Linked DNA regions of Homo sapiens: region 2 is linked to region 1. The links come from fine-mapping of genetic effects on plasma protein levels. A gene starts in region 1. The other region holds a variant in brackets. All regions are shown on one strand. Distances are from middle to middle. Region 1 holds the start of PRCP (prolylcarboxypeptidase). Region 2 overlaps PRCP (prolylcarboxypeptidase).

Region 1 (3,216 bases):
TACAGCGATGAGTTAGGAAGAGGCCCTAGCATGATAAGGGCAGACTTGGGGTGTGACCGCAATGAAGGTGAGTGCTAAGGAGCAGATGGCACGAGAGGAAAGTGGAGTGGAGGCGGTGTCCTCGGGGATGGGGGCGGAGTGGCTGTGGTGACCTGGCTTGGGCGGCGTCTCTGAGGAGCTGGCTGGCTTTGGGTTTCCCCTGGGAGGAGCTGTTTTGCGGCGGGCGGAGCTGCAGGCTGGGCAGGGCTTAGCCTGTGCGCTTCTGCTGGCCTCCTTTTCGCCCTCCCACCCGCACTGCAGTCTCCAGCCTGAGCCATGGGCCGCCGAGCCCTCCTGCTCCTGCTTCTGTCTTTTCTGGCGCCCTGGGCCACCATAGCCCTCCGGCCGGCCTTAAGGGCCCTCGGCAGCCTACACTTGCCAACCAACCCCACATCCCTCCCGGCTGTAGCCAAGAACTATTCGGTTCTCTACTTCCAACAGAAGGTAAGGGGGAGCGGGGGCTTCGCCGTCCCAGGCCCAACCGCCGGGAACCCTGACCCTCAGAGCCCGGGCAACGGAGCCTACCTCGAAATTCACACCCCTTGATGCCTAGGATCTGTTCGGTTTTTGGCTAACATCTTCCAGAAGGTGGTCCCAAATCCCAGTTCTGTTTAAATTTTCTCCTCCCATTACCAATAATTTGGTAGTAGTTTTGGCTGCATACTCTTGATTCAGGCTTTTCTGTAATTGGACACGACAGTCACTTCAACTCCCTCTGCTCCCAGAGGGTGCCCCAATCCGAACTCCCTTGACCTTCCCTCAAATTCAAATTATTAAATGCCAGCTCTGGTACCTAGTCTGCGGTGATAGTCATCCTTTGCCCCAAGGCAGCCCTAAATACAAATTTTAATATCTTTACCTATTAGAAAATATTGGATAGTTATCCATCCTAAAAGCCAGCCTCTCAGAAGGGGTCAGCTCAGAGCTGATTTTGTAGCCCTATTATTAAGAATTGTTGACAGTCCCTATTCCCCATAAGACTGAATGTATGTAGCCTATGCTTGTAAAAGGAGTTGTAGGAGTTTGTGGTGGGGGTGGGGATTAGCCTTTCTATGGTCTGTAACGTGAAATTAGAGGTTTTTGGGCTTGATGCCTTTGTGCTTGGCTGCAGCATGAGGCATTCCCCCACAGGTCTTGATGGAAAAGTACATCCTCTGTGAAATGACAAGTAATCCTTACAGTTCAGCATTTCTGAAAGCCTGTGTAAAAATAGGAAAAGATTTGGAAAAGGTTGGGATTAGAAAGAGTGCAAGGGTCTGAAGCTTGGCTTTAGGAGTCAGATAGAACCGGATTCCACCCTGCTAGCTCTGTGACCTTGGGCAGGTTACAGTACTTCTGTGAGCCTAGTTCCTTGATCTCTTGGGGTTTGTGGTGATGGTTGAATGAGAGCAGATAACGTACTCTTAGCAGAGTATCTGGCTTCAAGTAGGCACTCATATAATATGTGGTTATAGACCTATGTGAAATTTTGTTGTTGTTAATTGTGCAGAGACAAGGCTCACTATGTTGCCCAGGCTAGTCTTGAACTTGTGGGCTCAATAATCCTTCTGCATCAGCCTCCCAAAGTGTTGGGATTACAGGTGTGAGCCACTGAGCCCAGCCCTTATGTGAATTTGGAATGGGAATTTGTGGTAGAGGGATGTCATAGACTTCCAGAATAACTTAGAAATAATTTAAAAATTTTTTTATTTTTAAAAATAGAGATGGGATTTTGTCATCTTGCCTAGGCTGGTCTTGAACTCCTGGGCTCAAGCGATGCCCCTGTCTTGGCCTCCCAAAGGGCTGGGATTGCAGGCGTGTGCCACTGTGTCCCCAGCCAAGAAACAATTTTTAACCCAGACATTTGAGTTCAAGTTTATGAGGAAGAGAAAACATTTTAATTTTAGCAGGGGTACTAGGAAATAATCTTTTTTCTCAGGCAACTCCCTTAAATTAATTCTCTAGGGCATAATTCCCTCATTTGTAAATTAGGAGGGTTGGGACAAGGACCAATGTGTTTTACACTTTACTGAGGAAAATTAAGGGCTCTTTGGGGAGCTGTTTCAGAGGGAAAGTGGATGAAGGCTGAAGTGGAGGCCAAATTAGGTGCTCTAGTACCCTCTCTTGGATCTCTTTCAGCTTTTACCTGTTTTATATGCTGGGATTTTATATACAACTATTTGCAGAACTCAACTGCTAAAGTAAAACGGTGGGGAGGACTATTGGATTGGGAGATCTCTAAAATCCCATTGGGATTGATGAAAAAGAGAACTATCAGCAGAAAAGAGGAAGGGAACAAATGAGTTGTTAGTACCTTAGTTCCTAATTTATGTTCCTTTATTGTAGATTCTTTTCTTGGCCACTACACTCCTTAGAAATATAATTCAACACTGTTTCTTTTTCCATTTTTGATGATATGCAAAGTCCAGCTTTACTCAGCCACATTTTGTCCACTGGCTTATATTTAATTTATATTTTAGGATACAGATTCCACGTATGTATTTATTACCATAATAATAATTTTTCTTCTGTCTATTCCAATTGAGTTTTATTTCATTTTCTGAGGAAAACTTTTACATATGTATTTATTGCATAATTATAATTATACTAGTTGCCAATTTCTGAACCATTGATTTTTAGTTAGGACTATGTGTGAACTCAACTTTAAGTTTTTAAGTTAGAGCACATGAAATACTTTGATGCCTTCTAGTAATAAACTTATTATTAAAACTGTAAGGCTTAGTTTTTTATTCAAGGTTTAATTTTTATTAAACTTTATAATGATTTACCTGTGGTTATATCTGCCCCAGTGACCAAGCTGGACCCAGCTGTCCTTCTATGTATATAAAGGATGTGGTTTTATGGAGTGGTCTCTAAGAAGGCTTAGCCCATGGTCTTATCCCTCCCCTGCTTAGAAATTCTTCATAACTCTGATTGCAGGATAAAGGCCAAACACCTTGGCATGGGAATCCATTGTTCCTTACTATGTAACCCTAGCTGGTCGTTCCAACTTTATATTCTGCCATAATTCCCCATCCCAGCTCCCACTTTTAGCAACCTAACAGACTCAAGTGACTTTTACTGTGTCAGAAATTCTGTCTGGAATACCATCCCTCTTCCCCACTATTTAAACTCATAATTCTATTCCAGCAGAAATGTCTCACCTCTTCTGCGAATCTTTGACTTCTTTAAGGAAAT
Region 2 (8,532 bases), 47 kb after region 1:
CGTAGTTGTTGAACTCATGCCCCACACCCACACTCCCTGCACTATTAGCCCCTCTAGTAGTCATGCAGTGTCTATTGTTCCCCTCTTTGTGTCCATGTGTATTCAGTGTTTAGCTCCTGCTTATAAGTGAGAACATGCAGTGTTTGGTTTCCTGTTGCTCTATTAGGTCACTTAGGATAATGGCCTCCAGCTACATCCATGTTACTGCAAAGGATATTATTTTGTTCTTTTTAATGGCTACGTAGTATTCTATGGTGTATATAGACCACATTGTCTTTATCCAGTCCACTCTTGAAGGGTATCTAGGTTGATTCTGTGTCTTTGATATTGCAAACAGTGCTAAGATGAACATACAAGTGCATGTGTCTTTTTGGTAGAATGGTTTATTTTTATTTTAAATTTTTATTTAGTTTTTAATTTTATTTTTTGTAGAGAAAAGGGTTTCACTATGTTGCCCAGGCTGGTCTCAAACTCCTGGACTCAAGTAATCAACCTGTCTTGGCCGCCCAAAGTGCTGGGATTACAGGCATGAGCCGCCACACCTGGCCTATTTTTCTTTAGGTATATACCCAGTAGTGAGGATTGGTGGGTTGAATGGTAGTTCTATTTCAAGTTCTTTGGGAAATCTCCAAACTGCTTTCCGTAGTGGCTGAACTAATTTATATCGTACTAACAGTTTATAAGCATTCCCCTTTCTCCACAACCTCACCAACATCTGTTATTTTTTTACTGTTTTTTAATAATAGCCATCCTAACTGGTATGAGATGGTATCTCATTGTGGTTTTCATTTGCATTTCTCTGATGATAATGATGTTGAGCCTTTGTTCATGTTTGTTGGCCTTGTGTATGTCTTCTTTTGAAAAGTATCTGTTCATGTCTTTTGCCCACTTTTTAATGGGGTTGTTTTTTCTTGTAAATTTATTTACTTATTTATTTTATTGTTATTATTTTTTGAACAGAGTCTCGCTCTGTTGCCCAGGCTCGAGTGCAGTGGCGTGATCTGGGCTCGCTGCAAGCTCCGCCTCCCGGGTTCACGCCATTCTACTGCCTCAGTCTCCCGAGTAGCTGGGACTACAGGTGCCCGCCACCACGCCCGGCTAAGTTTTTTGCATTTTTAGTAGAGACGGGGTTTCACCGTGTTAGCCAGGATGGTCTCGATCTCCTGACCTTGTGATCCGCCCACCTCAGCCTCCCAAAGTGCTGGGATTACAGGCGTGAGCCACCATGCCCGGCCCTTTTCTTGTAAATTTAAGTTCCTTATAGATTCTAGATATTAGACCTTTGTCAGATGCATAGTTTGCAAATATTTTCTCTCATTCTGTAGGTGGTCTGTTTACTCTGTTGATAGTTTCTTTTGCTGTGCAGAAGCTCTTTAGTTTAATTAGGTCCCACTTGTCAGCTTTTGTTTTTGTTGCAATTGCTTTTTGGGACTTAGTCATAAATTCTTTGCCAAGGCTGATGTCCAGAATGGTATTTCCTCAGTTTTCTTCTGGGGTTTTTGGGCTTTTTATAGTTTTCAGTTTTACATTTAAGTCTTTTATCCATTTTGAGTTGATTTTTGTATATGGTGAAAGGAAGGGGTCCAGTTTCAATCTTCTGCATATGGCTAGCCAGTTATCCCAGCACCATTTATTGAATACGGAGTCCTTTTCCCATTGCTTGTTATTGTTGACTTTATTTAAGATCAGGTTGTTGCAAGCATGTGGCTTGATTTTTGGATTCTCTATCCTGTTACATTGGTCTGCATGCCTATTTTTGTACCAGTACCTGATGTTTTGGTTATTGTAGCCTTGCAGTATAGTTTGAAGTCAGGTAGTGTGATGCCTCTGGCTTTGTTTTTCTTGCTTAGGATTGCTTTGGTGATTCAAGTTTTTTGTTTGTTTGTTTGTTGTTGTTTTATATGGATTTCAAAATAGTTTTTTTTTCCTAACTCTGTGAAAAATGATGTTGGTAATTTGATAGCAATAGTATTGAATCTGTAAATTGCTTTGGGGAGTATGGCCATTTTAACAATATTGATTCTTCCTATGTATGAACATGGAATGTCTTTCCATTTCTTTGTGTTGTTTCTGATGCCTTTCAGCAGTGGTTTGTAATTCTCATTGTAGAGATGATTCACTTCCTTGGTTAGCTGTATTCCTGGATATTTCATTCTTTTTGTGGCTATTGTAAATGGGATTGTGTTTTTGATTTGGCTGTTAGCTTGATTGTTATTGGTATATAGACATGCTACTGATTTTTATACATTAAATTTGATAATGAAACTTTACTGAAGTTGTTTTGTCACTTCTAGAAGTCTTTTGGTGGAGTCTGTGGGGTTTCTAGGTATAGCATCATATCATTTGTGAAAAGAGACAGTTTGACATCCTCTCTTCCTGTTTGGATGCCTTTTATTTCTTTCTCTTGCCTGATTGCACTGGCTATAACTTCCAGTGCCGTGTTGGATAAGAGTGCTGAGACAGAGCATGCTTGCCTTGTCTTAGTTCTCAAGGGGAATGCTTACAGCTTTTGCCCATTCAGTACGATGTTGGCTATGGGTTTGTCATAGATGGCTTTTATTATGTTGCGGTATGTTCCTTCAATACCTACTTTTTTGAGAATTTTTACCATGAAGGGATGTTGAATTTTGTCGAATACATTTTCTGCATCTATTGAGATGATCATGTGGTTTTATTTTTTAGTTCTGTTTATGTGGTGAATTCTGTTTATTGATTTGTGTATGTTGAACCATCCTTGCATCCAGGAATAAAGCCTATATGATTCTGGTAAATTAACTTCTTGATGCTGCTGGATTTTGGTTTGCTAGCTTTGTTAAGGGTTTTTGCATCTATTTTCGTCAGGGATATTGGCCCGAAGTTTTCTTGTTTCATTGTGTCCCTGCCAGGTGTTGTATCATAATGATGCTAGCTTCATAGAATGAGTTAGGGAAGAGGCCCTCGTCCTTATTTAAAAATAATTTCAGTAGGATTTGTACTGGCTCTTTGTACATGAAGACCATTTTAGACATAATGTTGATGCTAGGGCTAGAGTGTCAGGATAAAAAGACGTGGATGACTAGTGGATGAGCAACCTGGGATTATTTTTAATTGTTTCACTCATAAAGTGTGAGATTGATATGCAACAATAAGACATCAATTATGTCATTTATTTGTGGAACAAACACAAATTGTGCAACTTTGTAGAGTGCTCTTTTTGTTCTGGCTTAACATCTATTCCATATGGTTTGCCAAAAGGTTCAGTGACTTTTTTTCACATTCTGATTTTATCCTGTGATTTTGTAAACTCTTCTTAGGGGTTCATGTGGGATGTGGCTGAGGA[A/C]CTGAAAGCTATGTTGGTGTTTGCTGAACATCGATACTATGGAGAGTCTCTCCCCTTTGGTGACAACTCATTCAAGGTAAAGATACTTTTTACTTAAAAGTTACAAGCTTTTTCTTTTCAATTTAGAATAGTTTCTAAATTATATGCCCCACTGTGAGATAACTTAAATTTGAAATGCCTAAAAGCTCAATAGTTTATATTTAATAGTTTCTTTTTAGATACAATTTGAACAGACTGAGGGTTTTTTTTAAGCCATTTTATTATAATTCTTAATGTTAATCAGTTTTTAACTCTGTGTGCCTCAGAAAGTTAAATTTTACTCTGTGGCTGCAGAGACAGCACAGGGAGCTTTTTATTATTTCAAAAATATCAGTAAACAATTCCGCTTTATAAATCGTACACTTAAATTATTGAGCCTGCCACTGGAAAAAATATAATGAGCATAACAAATTTATCTGATAAGATGTTTTTAATAAAATAAAATCAATAAAATAAGGACAAATAAGCTGTATGATGCATTAAGGCCAACTGGCCCCTTGGATTCCCTTTCAGCCTTTCCTGTTCTCACAGGAGCTTTGGCCTTTGTCACAGACTCTACCTAATAAACCAGGACACTTTTTCTTCAACTGAGTCATTCATGTACTACTACACTTGTGACTTTGGCTATATTAATTTGCCACGTGTACTATTATTTACCTAATATTTTTCTTTAATCAGCTCACTTTTTAAACTTAGCATTATCTTAACCAAGGGCTCTGTGTACTGGTTATTCTTTACAAATTACACTAAAATGAAGCAATAAATGTTCCATTAAAAATGTTTGTGTGCTTCCTAATACCATCAGTGTATACATATGCTTTTGGGAACTCTCAGCTAGAAGGACTTGGGGCCAGTCCTTTACTAGGCTGCCTATTTTGAAAGGAGTTTTTATTTTTAAAAAGGATATTTTACTATCTCATATTATAAATAAATACAATAGTAAAAATAAGTAAAAATGTTGTGTTATAAATATAAAGTGGGATGATTTGCTGATATTTGTTGAGCTGTATGGGAAATTCTATTCTTTAGCTTGGTATTTTGCGTAAATATCTGATTAAGGGACTTGACAAGTCCTGAAACCACTGGGAAGCAGTTAGCTTGTTGTAGATAGAACATAACTTCCTCTCCTAGGTTTCTATAAATGATACTGTGTTAGCAAAATGGAGCCAGGGGCTCTTTTTGATATACTTCTTTCCCTTTGTGTGCTCACAGAATATGTCAGTAGCATGAAGGATATTATAGATATTATGCAAGGATTAGAAAAAAAATGCACTCAACTGTACAGAGTGCCATAAAAACTGGAAGTAAAGGATAGTGACAGACAGGGAGAGAGGAGGTAAGAAGGCATACATCTTGGAAGAGGGGGGAAAGCTAAAGGAGTAGGTGGCATATATAGGAGATAGGAAAGATGGGATCTATGTGATTCAGTAATATGCCAGATGATGGAAGAAATCAGGATGGTGAGACCAAAGCATGAAAGTCAAACAGGGTAGCCTAATAGAGGTATGTAGCTGTATTCGTTGTCTAGTAAAGATGTACTTCAAACCTTATGGCTTAAAACAGCAATAAACATCTATTACTTTATAGTTTCCATGGGTGAAGAATTAGGAGTGGTTTAGCTAGGTGGTTCTGTTTCAGGGGGTCTCATGAGGTTAGGATGTCAGCTGGTGCTGCAGGCATCTGAAGTCTTGACTGGGGCTGGAGAGCCTCTCATATGGAGGATTACTCACATACGAGATAAAACTGGTGCTGGATGTTGACAAGAGGCTGCAGTTAAGGGTCTACTTGAGTTCATTACAAGGCAGCTAATTTCCCTCAAAGTTGGCAGTGCGGGAGAGCAAGGTGGAAGCTGCAGTGTTTTTTTAATGACCTAACCTTGGTAGTCACATATCATTATTTCTGCCCCATTCTATTCATTAGAACCAAGTCATTAAATCCCATCCAAGTTCAAAGGGAGTGGAATTAAGCTTCACCTTTTAAAGGAATGAGTGTCAAGAATTTGCAGACATATTTTAAAAGACCTTCTTAGCCTTCTCAGCTCAGCAGGACACTGGGCTTCACCTTCTGCAGTAGGGAAATTGTCTTCATGTAGAGAGCAGGATGTTTATGAAACTTAACATTATGAGTTTTCCTTTTCTCAAAGATCAATGTCTCATGTTGCCTGTTTTCCAATACCTGAAAATAGTTTTTTTTTCTTTCCAATTTTATAATTGTTTAAAATAGGCAGGCTACTTTGTTTCAGTTGTTGATATGGCCGAGGTCATATATAATCTTTCCGATGAAGAAGGGTGAGTTTTATTTTTACTGGTGATTCTTACCTCAATTGTCCACTAGATTTAGTTTATATTTGCCTGTGTGGCAGACATTTTAAATGTGCCAAGATTTAAAACAAAAGTTATAACAGTTATCTATTAAGCTTAGTTTATATTCGATCACATTTGCTATTAAATTTTACCTACAATTTGTTTCTGTTGTTTCTACAATCTACTTGCATACAAAATACATTATGTTCTTCCACAAACTTAAAATCATTTTCATGAGTTTGAATCCACACAGTTATTGCTTTGACTAGGCATTTTAGCTCAATTGCCTAGAAATTCTATTTAGAGAAAAGCTTATCTGACACTGGCTCTCTTCTGGATCCATGCTATTCCTAAGCTGCTGTTATGTGCACATTTATACCCGTGTTCTTTGTTATATTTCTTTAGGATTCCAGACACTTGAATTTCCTGACATCAGAACAAGCTCTGGCTGATTTTGCAGAGTTAATCAAACACTTGAAAAGAACAATCCCAGGAGCTGAAAATCAACCTGTCATTGCCATAGGAGGCTCCTATGGTGGCATGCTTGCCGCCTGGTTTAGGATGAAATATCCTCATATGGTAGTTGGGTAAGTGCATTTGTACTGGACATGAACGTTTCTTAATGATTATCAAGGGAAACTTAGAGATTCATTTTGGGTAAAACATGTTCCATGCCATTACCCTGAGGTTTCTGGCTTCTGTCTCATTAACAGCTGTGTTATTTTTCTCAATATTTTTATTATGTTTCAACTTTAAAACTTGATTTAGATGACATATATATAATATATATATATATTTTTTCTTTTCTTTTTTCTTTCTTTGATTTTCTTGCCATTTAGAGCTCTTGCAGCTTCTGCCCCTATCTGGCAGTTTGAGGATTTAGTACCTTGTGGTGTATTTATGAAGATCGTAACTACAGATTTTAGGAAAAGCGGTCCACATTGTTCAGAGAGCATCCACAGGTCCTGGGATGCCATTAATCGACTCTCAAATACTGGTAAGCTTTAATTAAGAGAATGGAATTGTGTGTTTTTTTAACCTTTCATTTGTTAAATTCAGTAGTTGTCGCTTTTTAAGTAAACATTTTGTTAAAGTATAATGTACATACAGAAAATTATACAAATCAAAATCAAATCAAAATGCGTAGCTTGATGAATTTTCACAAAGCAAGGACACAGTATAATTAGCATTTAAATCAGTAAAGGGCGTTGTCAGCATCTCAGAAATCTCCTCGTGCCTTTTCAGTCACTACCTCTATACCTACCCAGCAAAAACATCCTCACTTCTAGAACCATAGATTAATTTTTACTTGTTCTTAAATGTTTTAGTAATTGGAATTACATAGCATGTCTTTTTTGTGTCTACTGTCTTTTGCTTAGCACTGTTTGATAGATACATCCATTTGTTTTACTAAGTTGTAGTTTATGTATTCTTGTTGTTCTATAGTGTTCCTATTTATTCATTTTAATAGTATATTAAAAAGGGAGAATAATTCTGAATACTAATTATGGTAAACTCTATGAGGATAGGCAACTTGTCTGTCATGGGATTCTCCAGTTGCTCTGAAAATATCCTGGGAGAAGGGGTATAAAAGATTGAGTTTTCTAAAATACTATGTGAAGAATAAATGATCTGTAAAGACATCTGTTGACCAGTACTTTTTAGATTCCAACAGTGTGATTCTATTCCCAGGCAGTGGTTTGCAGTGGCTTACTGGAGCCCTTCACTTATGCAGCCCATTAACTTCTCAGGACATCCAACATTTGAAAGACTGGATCTCTGAAACCTGGGTGAATCTGGCAATGGTGGACTATCCTTATGCCTCTAACTTTTTACAGCCTTTGCCTGCTTGGCCTATCAAGGTAATAGGAAAATGTCCTGTCATCATTTTTTAATAACACACTTTTTTTTTAATGTGCATACTCTGACTTTCTGCCTCAGAGAAAGTCCCAGTGACAAAGGGGCTCCAGAGTTTGTCAAACTTGAGCTGGAATCCTGGGTTCTGCTACTTTCTGATTATGTGGGCTTGGACATGTTACCTAGCTTTTCTGAGCCTCAGTTTCCTCATTTGAAAAATGGAGATAGAATTCATTGATTATAGAGTTGTACGAATTAGAAATAATACCTAAAGTTGCTGTTAATGGAATAATTACTATGTGCCAAATCCTGGGCTGTGTACTTTGCATGTATAATGTATTTAATCTTTGTGATATATGTGTAACTTCCATCTATGTAATACATGGTTGATGCTTAATAAATGGCAGTCATTATCATAGCACCATGATCTAGTCAGCTGCGAAAGCATTGTAGGTGCTACCCTCAGTGTGAAGAGTGACCCCATGCAGCACAGTAGAGTGGAAAGAACATCAAATTAGATTCTGAAAGTGAGGTTTTGGTCCAGAACTGCTGCTTCACTTACCAACTGTGTGATCTTAGGCAAGGTGCTTTTCTTTCCCCATCCCGTCTTCCTCTGTAGAAGGGAATAACAGTACTTACATACCAAATAGGGTTGTGCTGAGGATCTAATAAAATGTTGGATGTGAAACACTTTGGAAAGTATAAGGACACATTACAGTATAAATTTTAAGGTTCTTTTCATGTCAAAATTATTTATTGTGTATGTTCATTTTAAGCATTTCTTTGTAAAGAGCTTTCCTTTTAGTTTTAAAAACAAAGGCTGGCCAACTTGATGGTTAAATTTAGAGAATATAACCAACTCTTCAGCTAGAATGAGTGTTGGAAGTGAAAATAGAATTGGCGATATAGAGCCGGGTTTCAAATGCACTTTTAATTTAACCACCCCTTTGAATTATTACATGTATACCTTGCTTAAAAATTTGTAACTTAAACAAGTTCATTTGCTATTATTTT

Evidence for each region. PIP is the chance, under the fine-mapping model, that this variant and not a neighbour inherited with it causes the effect. Protein levels are from the aptamer-based SomaScan assay of Sun 2018.
Region 2: its variant is fine-mapped to the plasma level of the PRCP protein (Sun 2018, PIP 0.95). The variant lies in the coding sequence of PRCP. If it changes the protein, the assay may bind it differently, which can mimic a change of level.

What each region holds. Positions count from the first base shown.
Region 1 is chr11:82,897,502-82,900,717 of GRCh38, reverse strand. It overlaps PRCP (prolylcarboxypeptidase), which reads left to right and starts at 288. Exons shown (of 9, transcript NM_005040.4): 1 at 288-483. The coding sequence starts at 316. RefSeq lists enhancers at 83-182, 333-392, 513-562.
Region 2 is chr11:82,848,040-82,856,571 of GRCh38, reverse strand. PRCP (prolylcarboxypeptidase) reads left to right here. Exons shown (of 9, transcript NM_005040.4): 3 at 3,294-3,395; 4 at 6,067-6,248; 5 at 6,501-6,658; 6 at 7,354-7,523. Among named protein-coding and RNA genes, the nearest start is that of PRCP, 48 kb to the left of the region's middle. The variant A/C (reference allele first, on the strand shown) is at 3,320.